Linked DNA regions of Homo sapiens: region 2 is linked to region 1. Evidence: fine-mapped expression QTL. A gene starts in region 1. The other region holds a variant in brackets. All regions are shown on one strand. Distances are from middle to middle. Region 1 holds the start of MSR1 (macrophage scavenger receptor 1). Region 2 overlaps LOC101929028 (a long non-coding RNA gene).

What was found.
Region 2: its variant is fine-mapped to the expression of MSR1 in monocytes (Quach 2016, PIP 0.95).

What each region holds. Positions count from the first base shown.
Region 1 is chr8:16,187,626-16,196,381 of GRCh38, forward strand. MSR1 (macrophage scavenger receptor 1) reads right to left here and starts at 5,026. Exons shown (of 10, transcript NM_138715.3): 1 at 4,973-5,026.
Region 2 is chr8:16,545,227-16,553,982 of GRCh38, forward strand. The region is part of intron 6 of LOC101929028 (a long non-coding RNA gene); the gene reads right to left. Among named protein-coding and RNA genes, the nearest start is that of MSR1, 360 kb to the left of the region's middle. The variant T/G (reference allele first, on the strand shown) is at 5,043.

The DNA of each region.
Region 1 (8,756 bases):
TACATACATAATGCCGTATTTAAAATTACATAAATAAATGAAAGGCAAGATATTTTTCAAGATGACTGGATTTTATATCTTAGGTTATGCCTCAAGAAAACTTTGTGGTTCACTAAAGTAGGGATTTTAAAAATTCTTCTGTTACATATTGGAAAATAAAATATTTCTCTCTGCACTGCACGTAACTAGCAAACTGAAACAAAAAATATTACCCTCAGTGAACCCACTTTGCTTCAAAAGCATTTATTATTAAAATTACCAGATTATTTCAGCTGCTTACTCTGGTTATAATCATTGTAATTTTTTAGTAACGTGAACATACATACTTGCATGAGCCTTCATTAGCAGGCAGTGAACAACTCACACTGTTCAAGTGTGCCTTTTAATATCAGTTCCACAGTTAGGACAAAAAGTAGCTTCACATAAAGTTACTCTTCCTATTAAATGTCAGTGTGCTGATAAACGATTGTAAAATCCTTGGAGTTTGTGTAATCTATTAAAAGCACGTGCTCATGAGAAGTGAAACACGTTTCTGTAATATCAGCATTTTATCAAGTGGATGAAAAGTTTACAGGAAATTCATAATGAAAGAATTTCAAGGTTAATTTGTTGGGAACCATATACCTTACTTTTTTGTTTTTATTATAAAACATTTTAATAATATTATAGATATGTTAGGATGAAATTTCTGTCATCTCATCACCCTAATAAAGGAAAAAAACCCTTAATTTTTTAAATGAAACTCGAGTCTTTGGATGTATGTATACCTGTAACATAGTTCATATCATCATGCACGTATCATTTGGTATTACGCGTTTTCCTTAAAATCACCTCATTATTTTAATATTTCAAACGAATTTTTCAAACTTGAAATTTTTTTTATTATTCTTTAGGTTCTGGGATACACGTGCAGAACGTGCAGGTTTGCTACATTGGTATACATATGCCATGGTGGTTTGCTGCACCCATCAGCCCATCATCTAGGTTTTAAGTCCCACATGCATTAGGAGTTTGTCCTAATGCTATGCCTCCCCTTGCCTCCCACCTACTGACAGGCCCCGGTGTGTGATGCTCCCCTCCCTGTGTCCACGTGCTCTCACTGTTCAACTGTCACTTATGAGTGAGAACATGCAGTGTTTCTTTTTCTGTTCCTCTGTTAGTTTGCTGAGAATGATGGTTTCCAGCTTCATCCATGTCCCTGCAAAGGACATCAACTCATCTTTTTTATGGCTGCATAGTAGTCCATGGTGTATATATGCCACATTTTCTTTACCCAGTCTATCACTGAGGGACATTTGGGTTGGTTCCAAGTGTTTGCTACCTAATAATTCAACACACATACATATATATATATATATATATATATATATATAAAACAACATATATATATGTGTTGAATTATTATGTAGCAAAGACTTGCTTATATATATAAAACCTTATTTTACATATATTTCATATATACGCAAAACCTTATTTTACATATATTTCATATATACGCAAAACCTTATTTTACATATATTTCATATATACGTAAAACCTTATTTTACATATATTTCATATATACGTAAAACCTTATTTTATATATATTTCATATATGTAAAATCTTATTTTATATATATTTAGATATAATCTTATTTTATTTATATTTCAAATATATAAAATCTTATTTACATTTCATATATATATAAAATCTTATTTACATTTCATATATATATAAAATCTTATTTTATATATTTTTATATATATTTTATATATATAAAATCTTATTTTATATATATTTTATATATATTTTATATATATAAAATCATATTTTATATATATAAAATCTTATTTTATATATATTTTATATATTTTATATATAAAATCTTATTTTATATATATTTTTATATATAAAAAATCATATTTTATATATATTTTATATATTTTATATATATGAAATCTTATTTTATATATATTTTATATATATTTTATATATATATAAAATCTTATTTTATATATATTTTATATATATATAAAATCTTATTTTATATATATTTTATATATATATAAAATCTTATTTTATATATATTTTATATATATATAAAATCTTATTTTATATATATTTTATATATATATAAAATCTTATTTTATATATATTTTATATATATATAAAATCTTATTTATACAGCCATTTTTCTAAATAAAAAATACAGCCATTTTTCTAAAATATAATTTTTTCTTTTAAACTTTTTTTCCTTTTCCCAGGGGGCAATGCTTCACTGATATAAATAATGATGTTATAAATATTTCCTTTTTTTTTTTTTTTTTGAGATTGAGTCTTGCTTTGTCACCCAGGCTGGAGTGTAATGGTGTGATCTCAGCTGACTGAAACCTCTGCCTCCTGGGTTCACGTGATTCTCCTGCCTCAGCTTCCCGAGTAGCGGGATTATAGGCGTTTGCCACCATGCCCAGCTCATTTTTGTATTTTTCACCGCGTTCATCCAGCTGGTCTCAAACTCCTGACCTCAGGTGATCCACCCTCCTTGGCCTCCCAAAGTGCTGGGATTACAGATGTGAGCCACTGCCCCGGCCATTATTTTCATAATTTAGCTTTCTTCTTTTAAAATGTTTCTTTAGGATAATTCATCATATGTGAAACTAAAAAGTGAAAGGAAAACTATTTTGAACTTCTTGGGCTCTACTGTCTTAGTGATCTTTAAAAAGATAACATAAATTTATAAATATTCCAGACTTATATGTGAATATGGCAGTTTCAAGCAAAATTCACTACCATTGAATAATAAAGCTTATTTTAGAATCATTTAGATTTTGATAAGAGTTAAATAATACCTAAAAGTGGTTTTCATTTTTATTTTTTATTATTAATGTAAGAGAGAGATTTCACTGTAATTGTCTGTCATACATTGTTCTTCTTGGGTTATTATCTATTCATATTCACTGCTTATACATCCCCACAGGTTTCTTTTACCTAAGCATGTGAATCAGCTCTTTATGTTTAATACATATTTACCATCTGTCTTTTCATACTTGACATGCATTCGTTTTCCTAAGATTTTTCCCTATTTAGTTTTTTTATCATATTCTTTCTTTTTTCTTTCTTTCTTTTTGTTTTTGAGATGGAGTTTCGCTCTTGTTGCCCAGGCTGGAGTGCAATGGCGTGATCTTGGCTCACCACAACCTCCGCCTCCTGGGTTCATGTGATTCTCCTGCCTCAGACTCCGGAGTAACTGGGATTACAAGCATGCACCACCACGCCCGGCTAATTTTGTATTTTCAGTAGAGACAGGGTTTCTCCATGTTGGTCAGGCTGGTCTTGAACTCCCGACCTCAGGTAATCCACCTGCCTTGGCCTCCCAAAGTGCTGGGATTACAGGCGTGAGCCACCGTGCCCGGCCCATCATATTCTTAAGGCCAACTTTATCTTCAACATTTGGAATAAATAATAAGCTTGTGATCCTCCTTATTATATAAAATAATAACTTTGATTTTTGTAACAGCAGTTGAATGTGTATATAAAATGAAAATTAAATTAAGATTATTTGTGAAACTAACAGCTTTATGCTTAAGGAACCCGTCTGTAAGACAGATTTTAGTAAGAAATGGAAATATTTATATTGTGCCTGATGTCACTGATATTCATCCTTGGTAGCAAAGAAGAAAGAGCATCAACTTTTGAATCTGAAATCTAGATTTGAGTATTGACTGTGACATCATTTAGCTGTGTGATCTTAGGCAAATATTTTAACTTATTTGAATTGAACTTTCTTTAGATATGTAAAATATGATCACAATATAAATTTAAAGAATTATTGCGAGAATTAAAAATAATTTTTGTAAATTGCCTGGTACACAGAAAACCATCAATATATGAATCCCTGTTATTTTAAAATATCACTTTTTTTTTAAATATGAGCTTTTCTTATTTTGTTCTCACGGAATCTTCATGAGGTACAAGTAGTATTTTCTCCATTTTACAGGTTAGGGAACTGAAATGTGTAAGTAACTAGTCAAGTTACTCAACTAGGGAGCAGGGGAGCTGGAATTTGAACACAGGCAGTCTACTCCCAGAAGATTAGCTCTTACCCACTGCATAAAACGGCTAATCACTGCATAAAACATCTGTAATCTCAGTTCTATGGTTTTTCTATAAGTATTTTTACCTGGTCAGTGCAAATGCCAACCTCCCATTATATGCTGTGTGAATCTTACTTAGTCTTCAAGATTAATCAGATTTCTAGCATCTCCATGAAGATTTATTTTTGATAGACTTTTTTCACATAGAAGTAATTTTGGCCTCGCCTATATTTTCATAGTAATTATCTATAGCATTTTCATACTACTTAAGGTGCTAGTAATTATCTATAGTACTTTCATACTACTTAAGGTGCTCAAATTACATTATGCCTATTTGGGGATATGTTTTAAATCATAAGATTCCGGAGCACAAAAAGAACTATATCTTATTTTTTGTATCCTTTCCCCACATCTAGTTCAATGAAGTGCATATAGTAGATACCCAGCCAATATTTGCTATATAATCAAGGGAAGATAATAAAAGGCATTAGATTAAAGCCAAAAATGTTCCATGAAAAGTTATGAAAGGAGAATAGGTGAAATATGTCAAATTATACTTTGAATAAAACCAGTATTTTAAACAAAATATGCTTAATTATATGAAAAAACCCCATTGCTGGTTCAAACTACAAAGCATTTAGTGTATTTCATATGTACTTGTGAACATATATGTTTTTCACTCATGGAAAATTTAGCAGAAATCCCTATTTTTTGATTATCGAAAAAAACCAAACCAAATTATTGCTGATACAATAAAGCATTCATCTCATCATACACACACAGACACACAAATATATATCACACACATGCATGCACACACACACACAGAGTACACACATAACAATCAATAGAAACAATTCTGGAAAAAACATTAAAATAAGCCTTTTTTTTTCTTTACCTTTCGTCCTAAAGAAAGCAGCACTGATTTATCCACTTCTCTCTCTTTACAATTGAAACCTAAAATCTTTATCTCATAGTATTTCAGCATCTGGTACATGAAGAAAGGAAATGACACATTCCTGCGTTGAAAATCTTTCTTAATGTGTTTCAATAGCACTCTCATCAATGCACAGGTTTGCAAAATCTAAATTTGTCAGATAACTCACTCTTCACCCCATTTAGGCCGCTTTAAAAAAAAAAGAGAAGTGAAAAGGAAAAGAAACAAGGGTTGTTGAAACAAGCACATAATTTACAGCAGATTGAGCTTTCCTTTTTTTTTGGAGATGGAGTCTCGCTGTCTCACCAGGGTGGAGTGCAGTGGTGTGATCTCCGCTCACTGCAACCTCTGCCTCCCAGGTTCTACAGGCGTGTGCCATCACACCCGGCTAATTTTTTGTATTTTAGTAGAGACAGGGTTTCGCCATGTTGGTCAGGATGGTCTTGATCCCCTGACCTCATGGTCCGCTCGCCTTGGCCTCCCAAAGTGCTGGGATTACAGGCGCGAGCCACCGTGCCCAGCCTGATCTTTCCTTTTTTATAAGTAATCTATGCCTTCTAAAACATACATTAATTCTCATGATCTCCTCTTTCACGTTACTATAATGTTGAGTAAAGACTCCATGTTTGGCTAGGTGTGGTGGCTCATGCCTGTAATCCCAGCACTTTGGGTGGCCGAGGTGGCTGGATCACTTGAGGTCAGGAGCTCTAGAACAGCCTGGCCAACATGGTGAAACTAGTCTCTACTAAAAATACAAAAATTGGCCAGGCATGCGCCTGTAATCCCAGCTACTCGGGAGGCTGAGGCTGAAGAATTGCTTGAACCCAGGAGGCGGAGGTTGCAGTGAGCAGAGATCGCACCACTGCACTCCAGCCTGGGCAACAGAGTGAGACTCCACCTCAAAAAAAAAAAAAAAAAAAAAGACTCCATGTTTAGAGATTCGAGTTTTTTTCTTAGATCCTTTTTCCTGTACCTTTATCCCTAGCCTCAAACACAAAACACGTGAAGAAAGAATATGATGCCTTAGTAAGAACAAGTAATAACCTAAAAGCACTCACTCCTGTTCTCTCTATAATGATAATAGCATTAATTTTTAGAGCACCAGACAAGTTGTTTATTTCCAGTAGTATAGTAGAGGGAAGGAATCTCAGGCATGGATCAGATGAAAGGGATGTTCTTTCCCTTCTGCCATCCATCAGGGTTTTATACAATTCAACTCCGTTATTTACTCACATTCAAGAAGTTCAAGTATGACTCACATGAAAACGTTCAACATTACATTAATGAGCTAAGTTTTACAACTGATATTTCTGGGAGAAGGTGTTTAGCTTATATTCCGTAGTCACTCTTTTGTGCCCAAACAGGAGAAATCATGCTTCCTACCAAAAGATGCCCCAAATTGCTGTGCCCATGGGCACCATCCTTCAGAAGACAATACGTCTGCAAGAAAGTATGCGGGAACAGCGCACGGTCTTTGAGAGATGCAAAGTAACAGTATTATTCAGTTATTCTTAAGGTAACCACTAAAAGGCTAATAGTAGTAGTAGGACAGGCATCAAAGTAAGCTGCATAATTTCTAACCAGGCAGCTTGAAGACTAGAAGTACGATCACAATTTGATCCAGCCTGGACCAGCATAAATGCTATTGGCTATTCCTCATCAAATTCTTACTGACACAGAACTGGAGACTACAAAACTCACACTCTTTCCTTTACAATTATTTGTACATGCTTCTTATTTTAAAATATAGTCCTTTTAGGTTTTTTTGTACAAAATCTGAAGTTTAAAATTTAGATATCCCTGACAATGCTACGTGATTAGAAAAGTCAGACTCTGGGAATAACAAGACACCAATCTCCCAAAATTCTATCCTAATGAGGTTTCTTTCTGTCAGTGTGCTTTATTTTCAGTATGTCTCTGTAATACTGTTTGGTGTATATCCACAGTGCTGACCACTTCCCTATGTGATGATTTCCACACTCTTCAGCCAATCTAATTTTTCATTAAAAAACTTCCCTTTTTATATGTCTAAATAGGTACTATATAATTTTATATAGTTTTATATATAATAATTATAGATTATGTAACATAATATTATCTATTAGGTCTTACTATATGTAAAAACACCTTTAGCAGGGAACCATGTTAAAAATGTTCAGTTCAAGCCAATGATTAATTGAGAACAGAGGTAATATGTAAAGGGTTGGGATTTTGCATTCATTCCTTCATTTGACTTCACAGCAACTTTGTCATATCACTTCCCTAATTGAGAAATTAATGTTTAGAGATGGTAAGTAAATTTCTCGAGATCAGAGTTATGAGTCATCAGAGCTGGTATTTAAACCCAGTCTGATTACAAAATTTGGCAAAATATAGTTTTTTCTTAAGCTGAAGTAGGTATATGTATTATTAGGGGACTATAATATCTCCATCAAAAACAGTATACAGAAAACAAGCCACAAATATGGGCAAATTCCAGATCATGTGGATAGTTACTTTGTTCATAGTTATTGTGATGGATCCCAATTACTTTATTTTTGTTGCTTATGGATATATGTGTCTAGAATGAGGTCCATGTAAGATTATGCCCAGTGACCAAACAGAGATTCATAATCAAATAGGCAAATGGCTTGAGAGAATTGATTCAAATGTCCTAGGACTCACTGTGGTACAGGTATACTGAACTCAAAAGAAGAGTTAACATTTTACACTCATTAAGAGGTATTTTTGTATGTCTAAAGTTACAGCAGGTTGTTAGTCATAATATATAGTTAATACATTATGACTTATTTATTGTATGATATATATATGATAAAGTTTCGAGATAAAATTTTTCATGTTCTTAATTCAAAGCAATAAGTAAATAGTGATATAAATACAGATTTTAATAATGCTGCAACGGACACATATTGCTGTGGGATTATAAAGCATTTACAGAATTATCAAAACATTCTTTAATAAAATTGACATTGAAAAATTGCATATTGGCAGAGCTTTTTCTTTGATAATCATAAGCAGAAAACTGTGAAGGTACCAGTAACATTTTATATAGCCTTATTAAACAGAACTTTCCTATATGAGAATTATTGAAGTCAAATACAGAAACAGACCAAGGACAGTATCAGAATTGAATAGTATCTTCCTTCTATTAAACCTATAATAATATTTTGGCTTGCCCACACAATCTTAAATTGGTGGTGTTAGTTAAAATTTTAATTTTTTTGCGAGATTTTAAAATTTAATTAACATATGCATTATATTTCAAAAACTTGGTTAAGAACTGTAGGCTTACAGTGTTTAGGTCTAAATTCGTGTTTCTCTATTTTAACATAAAATTATAATAAAATAATATATCAACACTTAATAAGGTATAGAGATCAATATATTTATTTTCTTTTGAGAAACACTGCACTATGCCATACTGTCTATTTTTAAAAGAAAGTTCATGGAAGACTTCTAGTTGCAGCTTCAACATCTAAAGAGCTTGGAAGTCATCACTCATATCTCGACACCACGAAAAAAGCTGGAGAAACTAAAAATCAATGACGTCTTGGACCCATCAGAGAACTGAGGTCTCAAGGAAACTACCAGCCTGAAACCGGGAGAGAGAGGAGATTACAGAGCATCACAGCAGACACCAGATCACCTGCAGCTGATGCCAGTGGAACCACAAACTGGCAGGAACACCTAAGCAGGAATTTGGCAAGAGGCTGAGTATGGACCAGTGTGAGCACTGGAGCCTCCT
Region 2 (8,756 bases), 360 kb after region 1:
CCCAAGTGGGTCTTCCGGTTTCTTGGTGAAACGCATGGGGTTTTATAGATGAGAAGGAACTGGTGGCCCCACCCTAATCTTTTATTGTGAAGATGGGTTCTCTGTCTGGCCACCTCCATGTTGCCGGTTCCTTTACCGTACACGTGGTTGACAAAGAAAAGGGAAAAGGGAGCCTCAATGTTGAACATGCCTGGCCCCCAGGTAGCCTTATCCTATTGGCACAGCTGCCAGCATTCACCCGTGCAAGCATCCAGCTTGCCTTATCTACGTCTGCAGTTCGATTTTACAGGCTGCTCTTTGTTAGAGAAGGAATGATATGGGGGCTGCGTTTTTGTAAAAAGGGAAGCCTTACTGAGGACTCTCTTACCCTCACTAACTGCCTAAATAATTTCTTTTTAAGCTCCTTATCAACACTGCTGTACTCTTAAAAATGGTAAAGATGGTAAATCCTGTTTTTTATCACAATAAAAAAATTAAGAAAAAAGATTGTACTAAAGGCTCTAGACAGTGTAATAAGGCCAGAAAAATAAAAGATTTAATAATTGGAAAGAAAAAAAGACTATCATTATTTGCAGATGCATGATTGTATAATATAAATATACCAAAGGTCGAGAAACTATGGTAAGAATATTTAATCAATTCATACTTTTATTATTAGATATAGTAATTTTTAGCAAAAAGCATCTATTTGCCACCTAGAAATAATCCCACATAAAGTTAGACAAGAACTTTATACCAACAAATGATAAAATTTTGTATATTAAAGCAGACTATAATAAATGGAGAGATACTCTATGTGTAAAGACAGGACAATTAGTTCAACCCAAACTGGCTTATGAATTTAATACAATTCCAATGGAAACTACATTTCTTTAGTTAACTGATATTATGATTTGAAATTTTATTTGAAAATCTCGTGGGCAGTGACAGCTAAAGCACTCACCAAGAAATATTATCAAGTTTTATTACAAAGCTAGAGTAATTTGTATAGAACCCCAAAACCGAACCAACCTATACAGAAACTTGTTACATATAAATACTGTGTATTAGAGAGAAAGACAGGACTTAGTAATTAGTGCTGAGACAATGTGTTATCCATAAGGGGCAAACAATAGTGATAGAACACTTATCTCACAGCATGCTTTAGAACAGGAGAGAAAGAAAGAAATGTGTAAAACTTAACAATTGTTTATGGCCTAATATACAGAATGATGTCCTAAACAAAATACCAAAAAGTAATTATATTAAGAACTCTTGGGGGTAGGGAGGAAATGGGGATATGTAGTTCCAAGGCTGCTAAGTTGCAATTAGTAGAATGAATAAGTTTAGAAATTTAATGTACAGCACGAGGATAATAGCTAATAATATTGTTTTGTATACTGGAAGTGTGCTGAGAGAGTAGATTTTAGGTGACCTCACACACACACACAAACACACACACACACACACACACATGCACTCCAAGGGATAACTGTAAGATGACAGATATGTTAATTTGCCTGAATATAGGAACTATTTCATTATGTATATTAAAAAATTATCTTGTATACTTAAATATAAACTATAAAATATTTCTTAAAATCTCTTAAAATTTCATTATCACTAAATTTAATAAGAAATTTGTTCATTAAGGGGAACCTTTTAAAAACATAGAAAACAAACCACAAATTGGGAAAAGATACTTGAAAATGATAAATCAACAGAAAATTAATAACATGAATTTATAAAGTTCTCCTTCAAGTTGACAAACAGAAGACCACCCAATAGAAAGATAGGGCAAGAGATATGAATAGGCAGTTCCAAAGAAGAAACCCAAGTGGTCAGTAAGCACATGGTAATATATTCAATCCATCACGAATTAGAAAAGTACAAGTTAAAACCAATCAAAATGAGATATAATTTTACAGTGACCATCATAGCAAAAATGTAAAAACAAAGTTGGACAAAAACAAATATTGGTGAGAATGGGAAGCCCAATAGGAATTCTTATATACAGTTTGTGGTCATGTAAATTTATATGGCAATTGCTGTATGCAGTTGGGTGAATTTGTATTTGTCAGTTTAGCTAGACCAAGTTATGTTTCCCAGCACTGCTGTCTTGCTTAGTTCTAAGTTAATGCAAGCCACAAGAGATATTCTGTGCAAGAGCTGGCAGGTAAAAGTGAAACAGCAGCTATGTACCTATGCTTGAAACAAGAATTGAGAACACCACGTACGAATTCAGCTTACACGTATTGTCAGTTGCTGCTGGCTCACTGGGGCTGTATGGGGCACCATTTGGCCCACAGCACTTAAACATCCTGTGGCTTCTGCAGGATCCTAGTTGGGACAGCATATCTGCCCCAGGGATATTTCATTCTTTCTGGTGGCATCTTTTTTTTTTCTAGGAGGAAGCACCTGGTATTACTAAGAATTATGCTTCCTGTCAATGATACCGACCTGACTTCAGCAGAAAGAAAGCGCACTGACATTATATAACCATAAGTTGTAAAAGAGAGGGGAATTTAATTCTGTGATGAAGGACATCATGCTCTCCTAGAAGGTATTCTTATGGTCAAAGTTGAAGTCTCAGAGGCAGAGGGAGAAATATGAAGGTTTCAATTTGCCATCATGGATTCCAGCTTATCCATCCTCTGTTCTACTTAGTATCATCTTGCCTTCCTGACTACCCGCTCTACTGATGTTAGGCTCCAACCCCAAGCACAAAACAGCTTTATACAGACTTTAACCAGCTGCTACAAATATATAAGGTCAAATTCTTATCATAAGTTTCTTATCACATATATAAGTAGGATTCTGTTTCTTCGATTTAATCTCAACTGTTTCAACTGATTATGACATAGACATAATAAGACAAATTGCAGCAAGTAATGGCTTGACATTTTATTAACCATGAAAAAATACCAACTTTTCATTTATTTAAAGACAAAAACAACACATAAAATTCACCTCTCTTAAAACTTATGGTCTGTGTGCTTTCTTTCTCCTGAACTCAGGTCAGTATCACTGACAGGAAGTATAACTCTTAGTAATACCAGGTGCTTCCTCCCAGAAAAAAGTAGAGGCCACCAAAAATGCTGAAATATCCCTGGGGCAGATTTAGGTGTCACCTGACACACATAGAGCATTTGTGCAGAGACTAAAAGATTGATCTGAGAAACCACTTCCTGGGATGAAATGAAAGCCAGGCAGAGAATCCCATACCCAAATATAATCTAAAGGGGTTAAACTGAGAAAAAGAACACCGGTGAGACAAAGGGATTTAAACTGGAGGAACAAGGAAAGAAAAAGTGAGTATATATTTGAAGGTGAGAGGTAGAGCCTAGAGGAATCCATTGAGGCAAAGGAAGCCAGCTCTAGCTAGTTGTTTTTCTAATGGTCCCTGGTGACTAAAAGGCAAGTCACAGCCATGATTTTACTATTACCATTACATTTTTTTCATAAAGCATCTTTAAAGACACTGCAGAAATCTGGGGGGAAACTTCAACAACATGTTGATCCAAAGAACGAACTATAAACATATTACCTGTCAACTGCAACACTAAAATATAGATCAGTTAAACTAGTCATAATGACATGTAAACCTCATATATCTGGACTTCAGTATTTTGATCAATATCTTGAATGCCCTAATAGTCTGGCTATAGATTGATATCTGGCAATAAATGATTAACTTGTAATGTATGAAAATACTGTTTAGCTTTCATAAAATGAGTAGTAGTAATTTGAATGTATGATTTCAATGGATTTTAAAATATTTCTAAAGAAAGAAAAATAATGACTCCAACTCTTTAGCAAAAATATCATGAGACATATAACCAAAACAAAAATGTCTTGACTCTGAATAAAAATTTTTTTTTCAGTTTTCAGCTATTTCGTTCAAATTTGTGTCTCCATATTCACTGTGCTTTCTGTTTTGGTACAAAAATATTTTCTTAAAATTGGATGTAATAATGATCAACATTTTGCATTGTATTTTAAATTTAATGTAGAGTTACTTGACTTAATTCTGTGGCAACTTTTTGTGAAGTGGGGTATCTTTATTTATGTTCCTAATTTTAGCAAAGTTTTGTCATTACAAGCAACCTCAGTAAGTATTATATACAAAAGTATGTAAACAGTTTCAATAATATGCATTCTAAAACATATCATTTCTAATGATAAAATTTTATATTCTCCGATTTATAATTTCACAGTCACTACTAAAAAAACTTTTGAATATTAGAAAAAACTACATTGCTCATTTTGGTGAATGAACTTAGCCAGAAACTCAATTTGCAAATAATGAAATCTAAAATAAGTGTAAATTTTATTAAATATCATGGGGAAAGAATTTGAGGTAACTGGGAAGTAAATGTCTACTAATCTTATTTTTGGGTCTAAACAATGGTAACCTAGAGGTTTGCATTCTCAAAGGCATTTATGTCCAATAGATTTACATAATCCCAAAGGTTCTCTAAATAAAAATTTGTGGGTTCTGGCTCTACTATAACATTAATCAAGATCAAATTAAGGATTTATGGCTTATAATAAAGTAGTTCCAGTGTCTATCACCTATTTTTCTAAATAGTTCATCAACTGGCTTTTACACTAGATTAAATTCCTTCCCTGTAGAAGAAAACAGCTCAAGTCTTAACTCCTACAATTTATATGACAAATAAAAATCAATACAAGTGTTCTTGTTAATGGTCTTATAAGAAAAAGCCAGAATATCTGGAACAGGAGACAAAAGAACTCCAGGGTCAAGTCTACTCATCTTTGGATTCCAGCATCTTAGACTTCCCAAGAATAATGGCTCTCATATTACCCTCTTACCTTCTGAACTGCAATCTTTCTTGAATTATGAGCCTAACTGTGCATGGCAGAAGTGTTTCTTTAACAATCCTAACTTTATCACACTGAAACACTACGAGACAGTGCAATAAACCCATCTTCATAGCTTTAAATATTACTATAATCTAAGAAGTACAAATGTTAGGGAATTTCATAGATATTGGAAATGAATCATCTGTTTAAACCCTATCACTTTTTATTTGAGGAAA[T/G]TAAAGATCTTCAAAACATAAACACTGAGCCCAAAGTCATAGGCCTAAAGAGAAAATTTAAACTAGAACATAGACACGTGATTTGTAGCTAATATTATCATCCAGTTGGACGTATGAGCATAGGAATTTAGAGCAGAAAGACAGTCTAATTCTATCCCTTTATTTTATAGACAAGCAAACTGGGCTATAATGATTTCAAATTTGCTTAACGGAGTGAAATTATCCATAGGGTTTGTGAAATCAAATGCTGAAAGCCCAAAAAATGCTTCCTTCTGTTTTGATATATAAGCAGAAAGCACTGCCTTAATCTATATTCTTTCAGAATCTTTTTTTCTGGCAGTAGTTATGACTTTTCTGTACTTTGAGGCCCAAATAGCTTTGTTTCAAAACAAAGTGCATTTTCAAAAGCAATTTTCTAATATCAAAATAATAATACAATCAGCCAAAACACTCACTAAATCAGGCACTCTACCAGGTTCTCTTCTAGGTATAGGACAAGACAAACAACTAAAGCAGTTTCATTCTAGAAAGACAGACAGACAAGCTGAGACCTAGCTACCAAGCAGGCAAGCAGATAAATAAATATAAGATTATTTTAAGTATTAATAAATGTGATGGCCAAAATTCAAAACTCAACATTGAGTGAGACTATGTCCTAATCAGAATGATTCAATAACTAAAAAAAATAGTTTATTCCTAGCAAGTGTCTTGTAAAGAGGGAGTTCCAGGAAGAGAAATTTCTGTGCCAATTCATACAGACTACTAAAAATCGCTAGAGGAGCTATATTGCTTTGGTTTATTTGTTAAAGTACCAAAGTGTTTTCAACAGCGTGGGAACCAATGAAGTAAGAGTGAATAAAACACTTTAATTTGAAGCAAAACATTCTCTTTCTCTCTCTCTCTCTCTCTCTCCCTCTCCCTCTCTCTCTCTCTCTCACACACACACACACACACACACACATACACACACAACTCACAAACAAGCACAGAAAACCAAATATTTTAGATCACTGTGGCTGCTATAATAAAATACCATAAACTGGGTGGCTTGTAAACCACAGAAAATTATTTCATAGTGCTCTGAGGCTGGGAAGTCCAAGATCAAAGAGCCACAAATTCAGTTTCTGGCGAGATTCACTTTCTGATTCAGTGAGGGCTCCTTCTTTCTGTGTCCTCACATGGCTAAGGTTTGGGGGGTGGAGTTAGCACTCTGGGGTCTTTCTTAGAAAGGCTCAATTCGTAATCCCCTCCCAAAGATCCACCTCATAATACCATCACCTTGAGCGTTAGGATTTTGACACATAAATTTGGAGGGTGGCACAAGCACAAATGGATCATAGTAGCAAATGTGAAGAAAGTGAGGAGGGTGAGGAACCTCATCCCACAAGACATGCTACAAGAAACTCTGAGTTTCATTAAATCAGTGACTAATAAGAATATCTAACGATCTAATAATTGGTCTTATTCCTTCACCAGATTCTAGGGAAGACATCTAGGATATCGCACAATTTTCCTGTTTCCTAATTTCTAAGGCATATTTTCATTTTTTTTTACTTAAATCTACAAATTATTCAAATCTAAACATTTTTATTAAAAGTAACATAGGTCTACTTTAGAAATTTTTAAAAAATACGAAGATGTATAGGAAATGAAATATTTAAAAAGCATGACTATCTCGTCTCATTACTAGAGCTGTCTCCTAATTGATTTTCTTACTTTTCACTGTGGCCTTCTCCTCCAGCTTAGGATCCACTGCACAGTGATGCTGACCACTCTAAAATGCAGATATGATGACGGTACTCCTTGACTTAAAATATTGACATGACCCAACTCCTTATTCTCACTGTGTTCAAGGAATCCAGATTTGCAGTAGTTTAGAAGGCCGTGCATGTTCCTACCCCTGCTCAACTCTCCCACTTGATTTGTTTTGACTCATTCTGGGCCCTCTGAGGCTTTATGCCACCCATTTCTCCAAGGAAACATTTTCTTTAATTGCAAGACTCATGAGCATTCTGTGTCCTATACCTAAAGTACATAGAGGCAGGCACCACCCTTTTCACCAAACAAATCAGACACCCTTACATGACCAAATGAGACATAGCTTCAGCCAATATGAGTTTGATGTTTCTCTTATATTCCTTTGAAAGACTCTGTTGGTTTTCTCCACTTCATTGCTTTATATTATGATTATTTGTAAGTACCTTCTACATGCCAGTCATTGCTCTAGAGGGAAAAGAAGGAAGCAAAACACACAAAACAGCCACTCAGCAGCATTCTACATTCTAATAAGGAGAAGCAGACAATAAATAATACAATTTATAGATATCACACGAACAGATGTTAAAAAGTCCAATAAAGACTGGTTAGGGGAAAAAGATTTCTAGGGAATTCTCGTTTATATCAAGTGATCAAAGAGAAACCCAATGAGATAGGACATCAGAACAGAGATTGGAAAAAGTAAAGGAGCAAACCATGTGAATTTCTAGAAGGAATATTTTCCACGCTGAGGGAAAACAAAGTGAAAAGACTGAGAGGTTTCCACAATCCCTGTGTTTTCAAAGGTCAACAAGAATGCCAGTGTTGGAGTTGAGAGAAAAAGGAGAACATTTGAAAATGAGGCTTTCCATCTGGGATTCTCAAATGCTATTTTAAATCCAATATTTCTTTGATGTAACGGGGTAACCTGGACATTCTAGGATATTTAGCAACATCCGTGGACTCCATTCACTGGATGGTAGCAACATCCACAGCCCCCCAACTCCCTACCCCCATTGCCACCCAGTAATGATCATCAAAAATTATCACATTTTCCCTGGGGGAGCAAAATCAGCCAGCAATTGAAAACTGCTGTTCTAGAGGTAGCAAAAACAAGATTGTGCGAAGTGTTATGCGCCATATTCAAATATTTGCCTTTACCTTGAGTAAAACGTATGCCAATGTAAGACACTCAGCACAGAATTAACATGAACTTCAGTTATGAAAATCATTCCTGCTTTTGTGTTGAGAATAGGCTACAGGATAACAAGACAGAAATAGCACAGTAATCCAAGCAGGAGATAAAAGTTGTTCAGATCTGTACGACAGAAGTGGAAGTGATGAGAAGTGGTCACATTCTGGAAGGTCACCAGATTTCCCAGCATATTGTAATGGGTGTGAGAAAAAGATAGCAATCAAGGATAATTCCAATGTTTTGGGAACATTAGACTTGCTATGAACTGAGATACAGAAGGCTAAAATTGGAATGGGCTCTGAGAGAAAGAAAAAAGGAAAAAACAGTCATTAAGACTAAAAAGGTGTTGACACGGATGTGTTTAAAAGGGAACACTTCCACACTGCTGGTGGGAATGTAAACTAGGACAGTTACTATGGAAAACAGGGCAGAAATTCCTTAAAGAACTAAAAGTAGAAATACCGTTTGATCCAGCAATCCCACCACTGGTTATCCACCCAGAGGAAAGTAAGTCATTATACGAAAAAGATAATTGCAAACACAAGTTTAGAGCAGCACAACTTGAAATTGCAAAAATATGGAACCAGCCCAAATGTCCATCAATCAACAAGTGGATAAAGAAACTATGGTGTATATATAATACTACTCAGCCATAAAAACGAATGAATTAATAGCATTTGCAGCAACCTGGATGGAATTGGAGACCACTATTCTAAGTGAAGTAACACAGGAATGGAAAACCAAACATCGTATGTTCTTACTCA